Linked DNA regions of Homo sapiens: regions 1 and 2 are each linked to region 3. Evidence: fine-mapped expression QTL. A gene starts in region 3. Each other region holds a variant in brackets. All regions are shown on one strand. Distances are from middle to middle. Region 1 has its middle 32 kb from the start of SERPINB6. Region 2 overlaps SERPINB6 (serpin family B member 6). Region 3 holds the start of SERPINB6 (serpin family B member 6).

What was found. PIP is the estimated chance that this variant, and not a neighbour inherited with it, causes the effect.
Region 1: its variant is the best candidate, but not a certain one, in a credible set for the expression of SERPINB6 in whole blood (INTERVAL, PIP 0.88).
Region 2: its variant is the best candidate, but not a certain one, in a credible set for the expression of SERPINB6 in B cells (Fairfax 2012, PIP 0.56).

What each region holds. Positions count from the first base shown.
Region 1 is chr6:2,937,288-2,941,526 of GRCh38, reverse strand. No RefSeq gene overlaps it. Among named protein-coding and RNA genes, the nearest start is that of SERPINB6, 32 kb to the left of the region's middle. The variant C/T (reference allele first, on the strand shown) is at 1,926.
Region 2 is chr6:2,948,824-2,953,062 of GRCh38, reverse strand. SERPINB6 (serpin family B member 6) reads left to right here. Exons shown (of 7, transcript NM_004568.6): 5 at 1-19; 6 at 3,994-4,149. Among named protein-coding and RNA genes, the nearest start is that of SERPINB6, 21 kb to the left of the region's middle. The variant T/A (reference allele first, on the strand shown) is at 1,669.
Region 3 is chr6:2,969,279-2,973,517 of GRCh38, reverse strand. SERPINB6 (serpin family B member 6) reads left to right here and starts at 1,951. Exons shown (of 7, transcript NM_004568.6): 1 at 1,951-1,985. RefSeq lists an enhancer at 1,646-2,170.

The sequences.
Region 1 (4,239 bases), 32 kb after region 3:
AAGCTCCCCCCTGACCACCACCACCTTGGGCACGTGTTCTCAGGATCTCCAGGGGCTGTGTCAGAGGCCACGGTCACTCACATTTGGCTCAGAACAAATCTCTTCAAATACTTTACAGAGTTTGACAGTATTTCAATTTTATTGCATATATTATATTGCATATGAGTTTAACTCATATTTTGAGTTTTTAATCTCTTACTGTACCTAATTTATAAACTTTATTATATGTATAGAAAAAAACAGTATATATAGGATTCAGTACTATCCATAGTTTCAGGCATCCACTGGAGATCTCTGAACATATCCCTTGCAGGTAAGGGGGGAAGCTGCTGTGTACTTCTATATGTGTCGCATGTGAAGCGTGGCCAAAATGGGAAATCTGAAAATGAAGGGGGAAAATGAACATAATTAGGGCTTTGTTTACTTTCAGAAATGGGGTGTTATGTTGCCCAGGCTGGCCTCAAATTCCTGGACTCCAGCAATCTACCCCACCTCAGCCTCCCACGCAGCTGGGATTACTGGCATGTACCCCCACACCCAACATGGGTGGCTTATATCTTTTTAAGTTTACTTATTGTAAGTCATGTTGGCTACAATTAAAAATATATATTATATACTTGAAAATGAGTAAGATTCAAAATGTTCTTGTAAACTGTGTGTCTTCCCCTATCTGAAGGAATTTGGGAGGAGCAACCTTGCAAGAACCTTGGTCTTTTTACACCCAGAAATTGGTTTTTGGTTTCACTGACTTCAAGAATAAAACCGCAAACCCTCAGTGAATACTATAGCTCTTAAGGCGGCGCGCCTGGAGTTGTTCGTTCACTCTCACTGGGCTCGTCGTCTCACCCACTATAGAAATGAAATTGCAACTTTCGCAGTGAGTGTTCCGTTCCTCCTAATGGGCTCGTCGTCTCACCCACTTCAGAAATGAAGTTGCAACTTTCACAGAGTCGTCTCACCTACTTCAGAAATGAAGTTGCAACTTTCACAGATGAGTGTTTCGTTCCTCCTGCCGGGCTCGTCATCTCACCCACTTCAGAAATAAAGTGACAATTTTCGCAGTGAGCGCTACAGCTCATAAAGGCAACGCAGACGCCAAATGCAAACGAACAAACCTTATCACAGCACAGAAAACCCCAACGGGTTACCACTACAAGCTCCGGCAGCCTGCTTTTATTCTTTTATCTGGCCCCACCCACATCCTGCTGATTGGTAGAACCAAGTGGTCTGTTTTGACAGGGCGCTGATTGGTGCGTTTACAATCCCTGAGCTAGACATAAAGGTTCTCCAAGGCCCCACCAGAGTAGCTAGATATAGAGTGTCAATTGGTGCATTCACTAAACCTTGAGCTAGATGCAGGATGCTGATTGGTGTGTTTACAAACCTTGAGCTAGATACAGAGTGCCGATTGGTGTATTTACAATCGCTGGGCCAGACACAAATGTTCTCCATGGTCCCCACCAGACTCAGGAGCCCAGCTGGCTTCACCCAGTGGATCCTGTACTGGGGCTGCAGGTGGAGCTGCCTGCCACTCCCACGCCATGCGCCCACACTCTTCAGCCCTTGGGTGGTCGATGGGACTGGGAGCCATGGAGTAGGGGGTGGTGTTCATCAGGGAGGCTCGGGCATGGCGGGCTGCAGGTCCCAAGTCCTGCCCCGCGGGAAGGCAGCTAAGGCCCAGTGAGAAATAGGGCGCAGCGCTGGTGGGCTGGCACTATGGGGGAACCCAGTACACCCTCTGCAGCCACTGGCCCGGGTGCTAAACCCCTCATTGCCCGAGGCCGGCATGGCCGGCCGGCTGCTCCGAGTGCGGGGCCCGCCAAGCCCACGCCCACCCGGAACTCCAGCTGGCCCGCAAGCGCCGCGCACAGCCCCAGTTCCCGCTGGCGCCTCTCTCTGCACACCTCCCTGCAAGCTGAGGAAGC[C/T]GGCTCCGGCCTTGCGTGGCCAGCCCAGAAACGGACTCCAACAGTGCAGCGGCGGGCTGAAGGGCTCCTCAAGTGCCGCCAAAGTGGGAGCCCAGGCAGAGGAGGCACCCAGAGCGACCGAGGGCTGTGAGGACTGCCAGCATGCTGTCACTTCTCACTTTGTACTTTTAAAAGGAAAGAATTCAAATGAGAGACAGGCAAGGGAACATTTATTTTAAGCAATGTGAAAGTTCATTGGAGAAAGTAGGCTTGGAAGAGGGTCAAGCAGGAGACTTCAAAAATCAAGTGCTGCTTCCGCTTTGATTTTTTTTTTTTTTTGGACGGAGTCTCGCTCTATTGCCCAGGCTGGAGTGCAGTGGTACAATCTCAGCTGACTGCAACCTTTGTCTCCAGGGTTCAAGCGATTCTCCTGCCTCAGCCTCCCGAGTAGCTGGGACTACAGGTGCTTGCCACCACGCCTGGCTGATTTTTTGTATTTTTAGTAGAGACAGGGTTTCACCATGTAAACCAGGATGGTCTTGATCTCCTGACTTCATGATCCACCTGCCTCAGCCTCCCAAAGTGCTGGAACTACAGGCGTGAGCCACCACCCCAGGCCTGCTTACAGTTTTTATACCCCTTACTCTTTTCCAGGCTGTCTCCACTCTTTGTTCTTCACCTCCCGGGCTGGCCCTCAAGTATTGCATGCCCAGTAGCCCTCCCAGTAGGCGCTGGATGGTTACTGAAGTTGTGCGCATGCCCATTAGATGCAATTCTCCCTTACTGGTCGAGCGCCCCTAGAGGAAAGTCATACACCGGGTAAATTTCACACCTTTCTATTACTGCACATGCTCAAAACCTTGTCTGGGACTGCCTTGCTAACTCCAGGTGTCTTCTGTCTGTTGCAAGACTCCTGTTATTCCCAGCGCCAGCCATGGCCACTTATTACCCTAGAGGGATAGTTTTATGCCCTTCAATCCCGGTCCCAATGAGAACCAGACAGCTCTGGGGTCCCTTCCTTGTCTTGCTCATTATTTCAGAGGGACAGATTTATAATTGTGACTGTGGCTTGACAAATGTCCAACATTCTTGGGGGCCCGTGCATGCCCTGCTCACGTCTAACCGCCTACTCTGACATTCTCATCACAAAAAAAATAGATGAGGTAATGCGTATGGGAATTAGCTTGTTTTAGCCATTCCACTGATATGGAAGGGTGTGCTCTCTTTAAATAACATGGCGGGGGGGGGAAGGGCGTGGTCCCTGGCTAGGGCTCCAACCCTGGGCCTGTGCCCACGGACCTAGTTGAGGACAGGCATTTTTGTTTTCCTGCCCCAATGTTGCACTTCTCAAGACCACCCTGGCCTGCCACGCCCCTACCCTGTGCCTGTAAAACCCTGAGACGCTAGCAGGCAGACACACAGGTGGCTGCATATCGAGAGGAGTACATCAGTGGAGGAACACACGAGCGGCTGGAAGTTGAGAGGAATGGGATGCACCAGCAGGCACCGGCATGCAGGCAGGCCATCCACCGGCAGAACAACGCAGTTTGACGGGGGCAGTTGAAGGAGAGCCCAGGTTGCCAGACTTACCTTGCACTCATTCTCCAAGCCCACATGTGATCCGATTCTTCTGGTACACCAAGGCAGGAACCCCAGGATACAGAAAGCCCTCTGTCCTTGCGATAAGGTAGGGGTCTGATTGAACTGGTTAACACAAGCCACCTATGGATAGCTAAACTAAAAAAGCACTCTAACACATGCCCAGTGGAGCTTCAGGAGTTGTAAACATTCAGCCCTAGACACTGCAAAAGGGTTGGAGCCCCACAGCCTACCTGTCTGTATTCTCTCCTAAAAGTTGGAGCAGCAGGGCACTAAAGTGAGCCATCAGCCCCATCACACATCCCGAGAGGAACAAGGGAACTTGCCCAGTTTCACTACCATGTAAGCATGTATCAAAACATAACATTGCAAAAGTCTACACAACTATTACTTGTCCATTTTTTAAAAATTCACTGCAAGTGATTTTTATTAGAGGACCTAAGACTGTCAAATCGTTCTTTAAAAATGTTTGGAAAAGATCAAATTGAATTTTTAAAATTCACAATTTAAACTTTAAATATACGTTATTCTCAAAGTACAGTTATTTGCTATGCAGTGAATTGTGCCCAGCCCCCTCCACAAATTCATACGTTGAAACCTTAACACGTAATTCATGATTTTAAACGAGAAATTTTTACAGTTAAGGTTGCTAAAAACAACCATCACCAAAAACACTGTGCTGGTGGGTTCATTGGTCTTACTGACTTCGGGAATGAAGCCACAGACCCGTGTGGTG
Region 2 (4,239 bases), 20 kb after region 3:
ACTGTTTAAAGTCAGCAAGGCGAGTAAGGGGCCGTGACAGGAGCAGCGCCTGTGTTCACACGAGCGTCTCCGGCTCGGGGCCTCCCGCGTCTGCAGCCGTGGGGCCTTTCTGTCCCTGCCCCTCCTGCTTGACATCCATTGGGTGGCCTCGTGTCCCTGGGCGCCTGGCATCCGCCCTGCCACCTACAGGGCAAGTCTGAAGCTGCAGCCCTCAGGCTCGATCAAGGTCTTAAAGCTCAGACTCCAGATATGGCGTGCCATCTTCTAGCGGACATTTCCTCCTTTTCTCTAGCTTCATTCCCATCAGGACCTACCCACTCCTTTCTTTCTGGCGGCGTCCCGGGAAGCCCCGCTACCGCGCCTCCTGCTGGCCTCCGTGCCACACTGCAGGAGCGGAACAACTCAGCCTGCTGAATTGAGGCTGAGCAGGGAGGACTCTCTGACAAGTGCCAGACACGTAGCTGGTGCTTAGTAAATGCTGAACCGATGAGTGATATTCAGTCCTCTCTTGATAGTAAGGATAAGTACAGATTTTTGTTTTAAAACAACCAAACCAAACATGTAGATAGACACTGAGATTAACCACCTCCAGCGTGGAAGATGTCATTTGCTGATGGCCCTTTATCTTCCTCTCACTGAATCTTCTTTATTGTCTCTTGTTTTGTTTTTCTTTAACTATAGAAATTTTTGAACATAGACAAAGTAAACAGAATAGATTAATTACAGTGTATTCTTGATCATTGACCATAGTTAGATCTTCCAGGCTAACTTGAACTTGAGCCTTCAGTTTTTCAAGAAATTTATTTTCATTGTCTGTTCTCCTCGCAATTCAGAAAGAATTATTTTCTTTGAAGCTTTATTCTGAAATGAACTGTGCTATTTTCCCCTGGCAAAATAATTTCTCTCTTTAAAATTTAATGATTAACAAGATGTACAAGGGCTTTGACTACAGATAACAGAAACCCCGGTTCACCATGGTTTATCTCCTAGGAGCTCATCTCCCCTGCTAGGAGGTCTGGAGGCAGGTGAGACCTGGGCTGGTCTGGCACTGGGGCGATGATCCCAGGGAGGCGGCTCCACCATTCTCAGCACGTCGCCTTCTTCCTCATGGTCACAAGATGGCTGAGCTGGCTTCAGCAGTCCCGGTGGCAGGGAGGGGGAGGAACAAGGGAGGGGAGGGGAGCCTAAACCTTCCCCTTAGTGGTTCTGCGTTTCAGAAAGGGAAAGCTGCTTTCTATATGGTGTAGGCCAGAACTATAGGTCTTGTGGGTTTGGGGAGATGTGGAATCCCGTCATGCTTTCTGAGTTCTGCAGTGAAGAAGGGTGAAGGAAGGGGCTGCAGTATTGAGCGTACCAGCCTGAGGCCAGAGGTGTACCTCCAAGGGCACAGATTTTGAGTTGATACAGATTCTTATTTTAATTTCATTACCTTCTATATAAACTGGAACTTGTCTATATAATTGTGTATTTAGTGAATCATTCAGTCACTAAGGTTAGATCTTTTTATATTGCAAGATTGGAGGCTTTGGACCCTGAAGGGGTGCAGGGAGGAATTACTGAAGGCAGGGGTCAGCAAACTTCAGCCTACAGCAAAGCCAGCCCACCACCTAATTTTTTTTAAAGGTTTACTGAAACACAGCCATGCTTATTTTTTTTTTTTATTTTTTA[T/A]TTTTTCCAAGACAGAGTTTCTCTCTTGTTGCCCAGGCTGGAGTGCAGTGGTGCCATCTCGGAACACTGCAGCCTCCGCCTCCCGGGTTCAGGTGATTCTCCTGCCGTGGCCTCTTGAGTAGCTGGGATTACAGGTGTGTGCCACTATGCCCGGCTAATTTTTGCATTTTTAGTAGAGACGGGGTTTCACCATGTTGGTCAGGTTGGTCTCGAACTCCTGACCTCAGGTGATCCACCTGCCCGGGCCTCCCACAGTGCTGGGATTACAGGCGTGAGCCACCACGCCTGGCCCATGCTTATTTACTTACTTATTTCATCCTGTAACAACAGCTGAGTCGTTGTGACGGAGATGGTACATGTAGCCACAAACCGGAAAATAGTTCCTGTCTGGTCAGTTATGGAAGAAACATGCCTACTGCTGGCCAAGGAAATGAGTGGGGCAGCCGAGGCCCAGGAGACTGCTCTAGCCAAAGGCTAAGGGCCAGCCCAGGCGAGCCTCTACCACGTGAAAGCAGAAAGCTGCCGCCGCAGTGTATTTTATTTATTCCATTTAACACAGAAGAATGTGCTACACCAGAGACTGGGGACCATACGGCGTCTTTGACTGTGCCTATTGCAGGGTATTTACTCAACTCACAGGAGCAGCTCCGAGTCAGGAACTGAGGGGGATTGTTGGATGGGGTGTGGTTCCTGGCCTCCAGTCTTTCTCATTGGCTGGCTGGGGTTGGTGACCAGTGCAGTTTTTTCTGGTGAGATGTGTAAATGTTGCCTGGCCTTTTTAGCATCCCAGCTCATTAATTCGTTTATGCATTTATCATTTATTCAGCAGAGATTGACTGAGTGCCTTTTTTTTTTTTTTTTTGAGATGGAGTCTCGGTCTGTCTCCCAGGCTGGAGTGCAGCGGTGCAATCTTGGGTCACTGCAACCTCTGCCTCCCGGGTTCAAGTGATTCTCCTACCTCAGCCTCCCGAGTAGCTGGGATTACAGGAGCGCACCACCATGCCCAGCTAATTTTTCTATTTTTAGTAGAGGTGGGGTTTCACCATGTTGGCCAGGCTGGTCTCGATTTCCTGACCTCAGGTGATCCGTCTGCCTCAGCCTCCCAAAATGGTGGGATTACAGGCATGAGCCACCATGCCTAACCTGACTGAGTGTCTTCTATGTATCAGGCATGGTGCTAGGTATTTTTCAGCCATGCACAAAACAAGCAAAGCATGCTTGCCCTGGTGAAGCTTATGTTTTCTTGGGGGAGAGACAGCAAGCATAAATAAGAAAATAGGAGCATATTAGACAGTGGTAAATGGTACAGAGACATACCAAGGGAGGGGATAGGAATCTGTGTTTGGGGTGGGAGTGTAGGGTCAGGTAAGATCTATCAAGGACAGCTTCTCTGCCAAGGTGGTTTTTGAACAAAGACCGTAAAGAGGCAGAAGTTCACTCTCCAGGTTCTGGAGGACAAGCTTACTGCGTAGAGATGAGATGAACTGGGTTTGCTGGCAGTGCAGTGAGGAGGCCTCTGTGACTGTAGCAGATAAGCAAAGGGAGAGGGAACTGGGGACGAGCTCTTATCACAATTCCAGGCTTTTTAGGGACTTTCAGCTCCTGCTCCGAGTAAATGGGGAGCCAGGGAAGGGTGTCCAGCCAAAGAACAATGTGATCTGCCTTAGGTTCTACCGGGCCCCTCTGGCCACTGTGCTGGGAACAATCACAATCATATTATCACAATATTCCAGGGCTAGGCTGGTAGCAGCAGAGGCAGAAGGAACAGGTCAGATTTTGTTATATTCTCGAGGTAGAGCCAATATAATTTGCCAGTGAGTCAGACACAGGGTGTGAGAGAAAGACAGGAGTCAGGGGCACTCCAGGGCTTTTGACCACTGGACAGTGGCACTGCCCTCAGCTGAGATGGGCAGAGTTGCAGTAGACAGAGCCGACTTGGAGGATCTACGGAGTGCCGCATTACAGGTGGCGCTGGGAGTTTCTTTTATGTCCAAACATAGGTGCAGGTGGGCAGTAAAATGCAGGAGGCCCAAGGACAGGGCAGAGGCCCAGGCGGGAGGTAAATTTGGTGTGATATTGTGTTTAAAGCCATGAGACTGAATGCGATCAATGAGAGGAAAGACACGTTGGGTTTGGGCCCTGGGCACCCCAGTTTCTGGAGGTTGAGGTAATGAAGATGGCAGAGCAGGCGCTGCCGGGTGTTCTGGAAGCTGGGGAGAAACCGAGCTGCGTTTCTCCCTGCAGAGAGTGGCCAGCTCCGACACATTTGTCCCATGTGTCAGTGGGGTCTTGTTTCAACTTGATGTTTATCTGTTTTCTTTGTAGAATGAGGAGAAACCTGTGCAAATGATGTTTAAGCAATCTACTTTTAAGAAGACCTATATAGGAGAAATATTTACCCAAATCTTGGTGCTTCCATATGTTGGCAAGGAACTGAATATGATCATCATGCTTCCGGACGAGACCACTGACTTGAGAACGGTAACAGCTAAGCTGTGAGCGAGGCGTGCTAGCAAGGAGCCACTCGGGGGTGTCTGCTGTGGCTGCTGTCCCTACTTTGCGGTCAGCCGT
Region 3 (4,239 bases):
TTTTTGGAGAACACGTGGTATTTGGTTACATGGCAAGCTTTTTTTTTTTTTTCCTGAGATGGGGTCTTGCTCTGTTGCCCAGGCTGGGGTGCAGTGGCATGATCTCAGCTCACTGCAACCAACCTCCGCCTGCTAGATTCAAGCAATTCTCCTGCCTCAGCCTCCTCAGTAGCTGGCACTACAGATGTGTGCCACCATGCCTAATTTTTTTATATTTTTAGTAGAGACGGGGGTTTCACCATGCTGGCCAGGCTGGTCTCGAACTCCTGACCTCATGATCTGCCTGCCTTGGCCTCCCAAAGTGCTGAGATTACGGGCATGAGCCACTGCGCCCTGCCAAGTAAGTTCTTTAGTGGTGATTTGTGAGATTCTGGTGCATCTATCACCTTAGCAGTATACACTGAACTCAAATTTGTAGCCTTTTATCCCTCACTCCCTTCCCACCCTTTTCCCCCAAGTCCCCAAAGTCCATTGTATCATTCTTATGCCTTTGTATCCTCATAGTTTAGGTCCTACTTATGAGTGAGAACATACAATGTTTGGTTTTCCATTCCTGAGTTACTTCACTTAGAACAACAGTCTCCAATCCCATCCAGGTTGCCAATGCCATTAATTCATTCCTTTTTATGGCTGAGTAGCATTCCACCGTATACGCATACCACAGTTTCTTTATCCACTCTTTGATTGATGGGCATTTGGGTTGGTTTCATGTTTTTGCAATTACGAATTGTGCTGCTATTAACATGCGTGTGCAAGTATCTTTTTTGTATAATGACTTATTTTCCTCTGCGTAGATACCCAGTAGTGGGATTGCTGGATCAAATGGTAGTTCTATTTTTAGTTATTTAAGGAATCGCCATACTATTTTCCACAGTGGTTGTACTATCCATCAGCAGTGTAGAGGTGTTCCCTCTTCACCAAATCCACGCCAACATCTATTATTTTTTGAGTTTTTGATTTTTTGATTAAGGCCACTCTTGCGGGAGTAAGGTGGTATCACATTGTGGTTTTGATTTGCATTTCCCTAATCATTAGTGATGTTGAGCATTTTTTCTTGTTTGTTGGCCATTTGCATATCCTCTTTTGAGAACTGTCTATTCATGCCAGCCCACTTTTTGATGGGATTTTTTTTTCTTGCTAATTTGTTTGAGTTTCTTGTAGATTCTGGATATTACTGCTTTGTCGGATGTATAGATTGTGAAGATTTTCTCCCACTCTGTAGGTTGTCTGTTTACTCTGCTTGACTATTCCTTTTGCTTTGCAAAAGCTATTTAGTCTACTTTTTTTTTTTTTTTTTTTTTTTTTTTTTTTGAGACGGACCAGACTGGAGTGCGGTGGCGCCATCTCGGCTCACTGCAGCCTCTGCCTCCCGGGTTCAAGTGATTCTCCTGCCTCAGCTTCCCCAGCAACTGAGATTACAGGCACGCGCCATTACACTCGGCTAATTTTTGTATTTTTAGTAGAGACGGGGTTTTGCCATGTTGGCCAGGCTGGTCTGGAACTCCTGACCTCCAGTGATCCGCCTGCCTCGGCCTCCCAGTGTTGGGATTACTGGCGTGAGCCCCGCGCCCGCCCCTGGCTGGCTTCTTTGCCGCAAGCTGTTTCATCAGCAAAGTCTTTGTGACCTGTATCTAGTCTGCTCATTTTTAAATGCGTGTTCTGCACTCCCCAGTGGATGGCCGTGTATCAGGAGCCGGCCCTTTTCTGGAAACAGGCCAGCATTCAGTCTCCACAGAGGCACCATAAACACGCTGGTGGGGCCCTGTACTGTGGTCAAAGTCAAGGCCTCCGGGCAGGACTCGCGGCCCCTCCGGCTGGCGGGTGGGGTTGACCCGCACGTCCCGCCCCGCCTCTCCCTTCGCGCTCCGGACGGGCGACGGTAGCTCGAGACCCGGGACTCCGCCCGCCTCCCCGCGAGTATTTGAGGTCCGGGGCGGCTCCGGCGCCTCTGCCCGCCGTTCTGCTCGCTCGCTCCCCGCTCTGGAGTACGTGTCTGGCTTGGGAGCCGCTCGGACACGCTGGCTTGGGTTTGTCGCTCCAAAGTCGGGAAAGCCGGGGGCGCGAGCGGGGAGGGGGGCAGGGTGGGGGTCGCGCGGGGCCGGGAACGCGCGTGGGTCGACGGCGCGCGGGGACGCTGGAGCCCCGAGAATGGGGCGTGGCCGCGCGGGGCTGTGACCCCAGCAGTCCCAGCGGGGCGGGGGCCCGGGCGAGCGTCCGGCTTGGGTTCCCTTCCGGAGCCTCGCAGCGGCAGAGAACGGCGACGCGGCCGGGTGAGTCGTGCGTGGCCGCGAGCCCGGCCGGTGACGCCGCGGACCCGAGGACCCCGGGCGCCCAGGCCCAGCGCCCACGGAAGAGGCGGCCGGCGCGGGATGGGGGCGGCGCAGAGCCTCCCGGGCCACAGGTGACCCCGGTCGGCCCCGCGGCCTCGGTGACCCCTCGCCCGCTCCGCGACCCGGAGGACGCGTGCTCAGTCTTGGGGCGCCGGGTGTTAGGAGCCGGGCGGGAGGCGGAGAGAGGCCGAGGGGTTCGGCGCCAAACGGTGCCATCCGGGCCCCCTGCGTGTGTTCACTGGACTGGCCGTGCTGGGCTTGGCCAATCCGCAGCACTTTCAGGTCGCCCAGACCTGTGGAGACGATCGTGTGGACCAGCCCGGATCTCCTTACCGCTCTGTGTTTGAATTAAACTCCCTACAGGCAAACTATTACAGGCTTTGATGTCTTCAAGGCAAAGAGGAAACTTTAACTACAAATTGGCATTTAAGTTATTTTCTTCCTTTTTTTTTTTTTTTTTTTTGTCCTAAAGATTGGCTTCGGAAAACTGAGGTACAGAAAATTAATAATTAATGTTCACATGCTGTCAGGAATACTCAGATGCGAGGGGGCATCTGAGTCCATTTTTTGGGCACTTTTGCTTTCTGGGATGCTCTCGTGCCTAATGACAGCCCTGCAGCTGCCTGCATCCTTTCTGGTGGGGGTCAGGCCTGATGCGATGAGATCTGATGTGTTCAGTGACCTTCTAGTTAAGGTCCTGGGCCGGCCTTGTATTGCTGGGGCTTTTATGTGTGCTGGGATTAACACCAGTGACTGCTGTTATCAGCATAGATGGCGTTTGTTCTCATTTCAGGACCGTATCTGAGTAATTGCATCCATTGTGATGTGCCACCAAAGAGAAAAGTACTTTGGTCATACTCGACTATGTAAACTAAGTATTTTAAGTTAAGGCCAATTCCAATGCATTTTATTACAATTCAGCATGAAACAGTTAACACGGACCAGTAACAGTAGAGTGAAATTAGCATGAATAGAACCAACATTCTTTTCCACATATGTAATAATAAGGGCACCCAAGCAGATGTTGTACGGTCCCAGGGAAGACCACACACCTTACATTTCCAGGCTTACTGCACTTGGGATTAAGCCAAGGCATCCAAAGAAAGAAAATTTTTTTTTTTTTTTTTTTTGCCAGGCTGGAGTGCAGTGGTGCGATTTCGGCTGACTGCAACCTCCACCTCCCGGGCTCCATACCTGGCTAATTTTTGTATTTTTAGTAGCAATGGGGTTTCACCATGCTGGCCAGGCTGGTCTCAAACTCCTGACCTCGTGATCTGCCCGCCTTGGCCTCCCAAAGTGCTGGGATTACAGATGTGAGCCACTGCGCCTAGCCTGAAAATAATGTTTAACTCCCATTTATATGTTAGGCTGCTCAGATATATTAAACACATACACACACAACACACACACACACACACATACACACTGCACAAGGAAACAGAGGGACAAAGCAGGAAGTCCAAGTTTCCATTAAACCAGTCTTTAAATGGTTAAATTTAGTAGGAAATAAAGGCATCCTTAATAGAAGTTGAGAAGCACAATTCAATAGTGACACCTAAAAAAAAATTAAGACTTGATTAGTTGAATAAAATCAATTGTGAACATTGCTCAGTTACTGGTGATGCTACAGGAAAAAAAAAGTGATGCCAGGATAGATTTGTTAGGCTTGTTTAAAAAATACATAAAATTGTTCATTAATAAGACTTTAATATCCAGTTTTTATGTCTGTGATTAAATATCATTTTTTATTTTTAAATGGTATAGTTTTTAAATTTTGAAACAATTAATTTTGCATAAATATTTGTCTATGTACATATATACATGTGTATTCACATATATATATGAAGGACACTTAGCTATCTTATTTACTGAAGCTAAAGAAGTAGGTCCTTAAAAAGCCATTGACAGG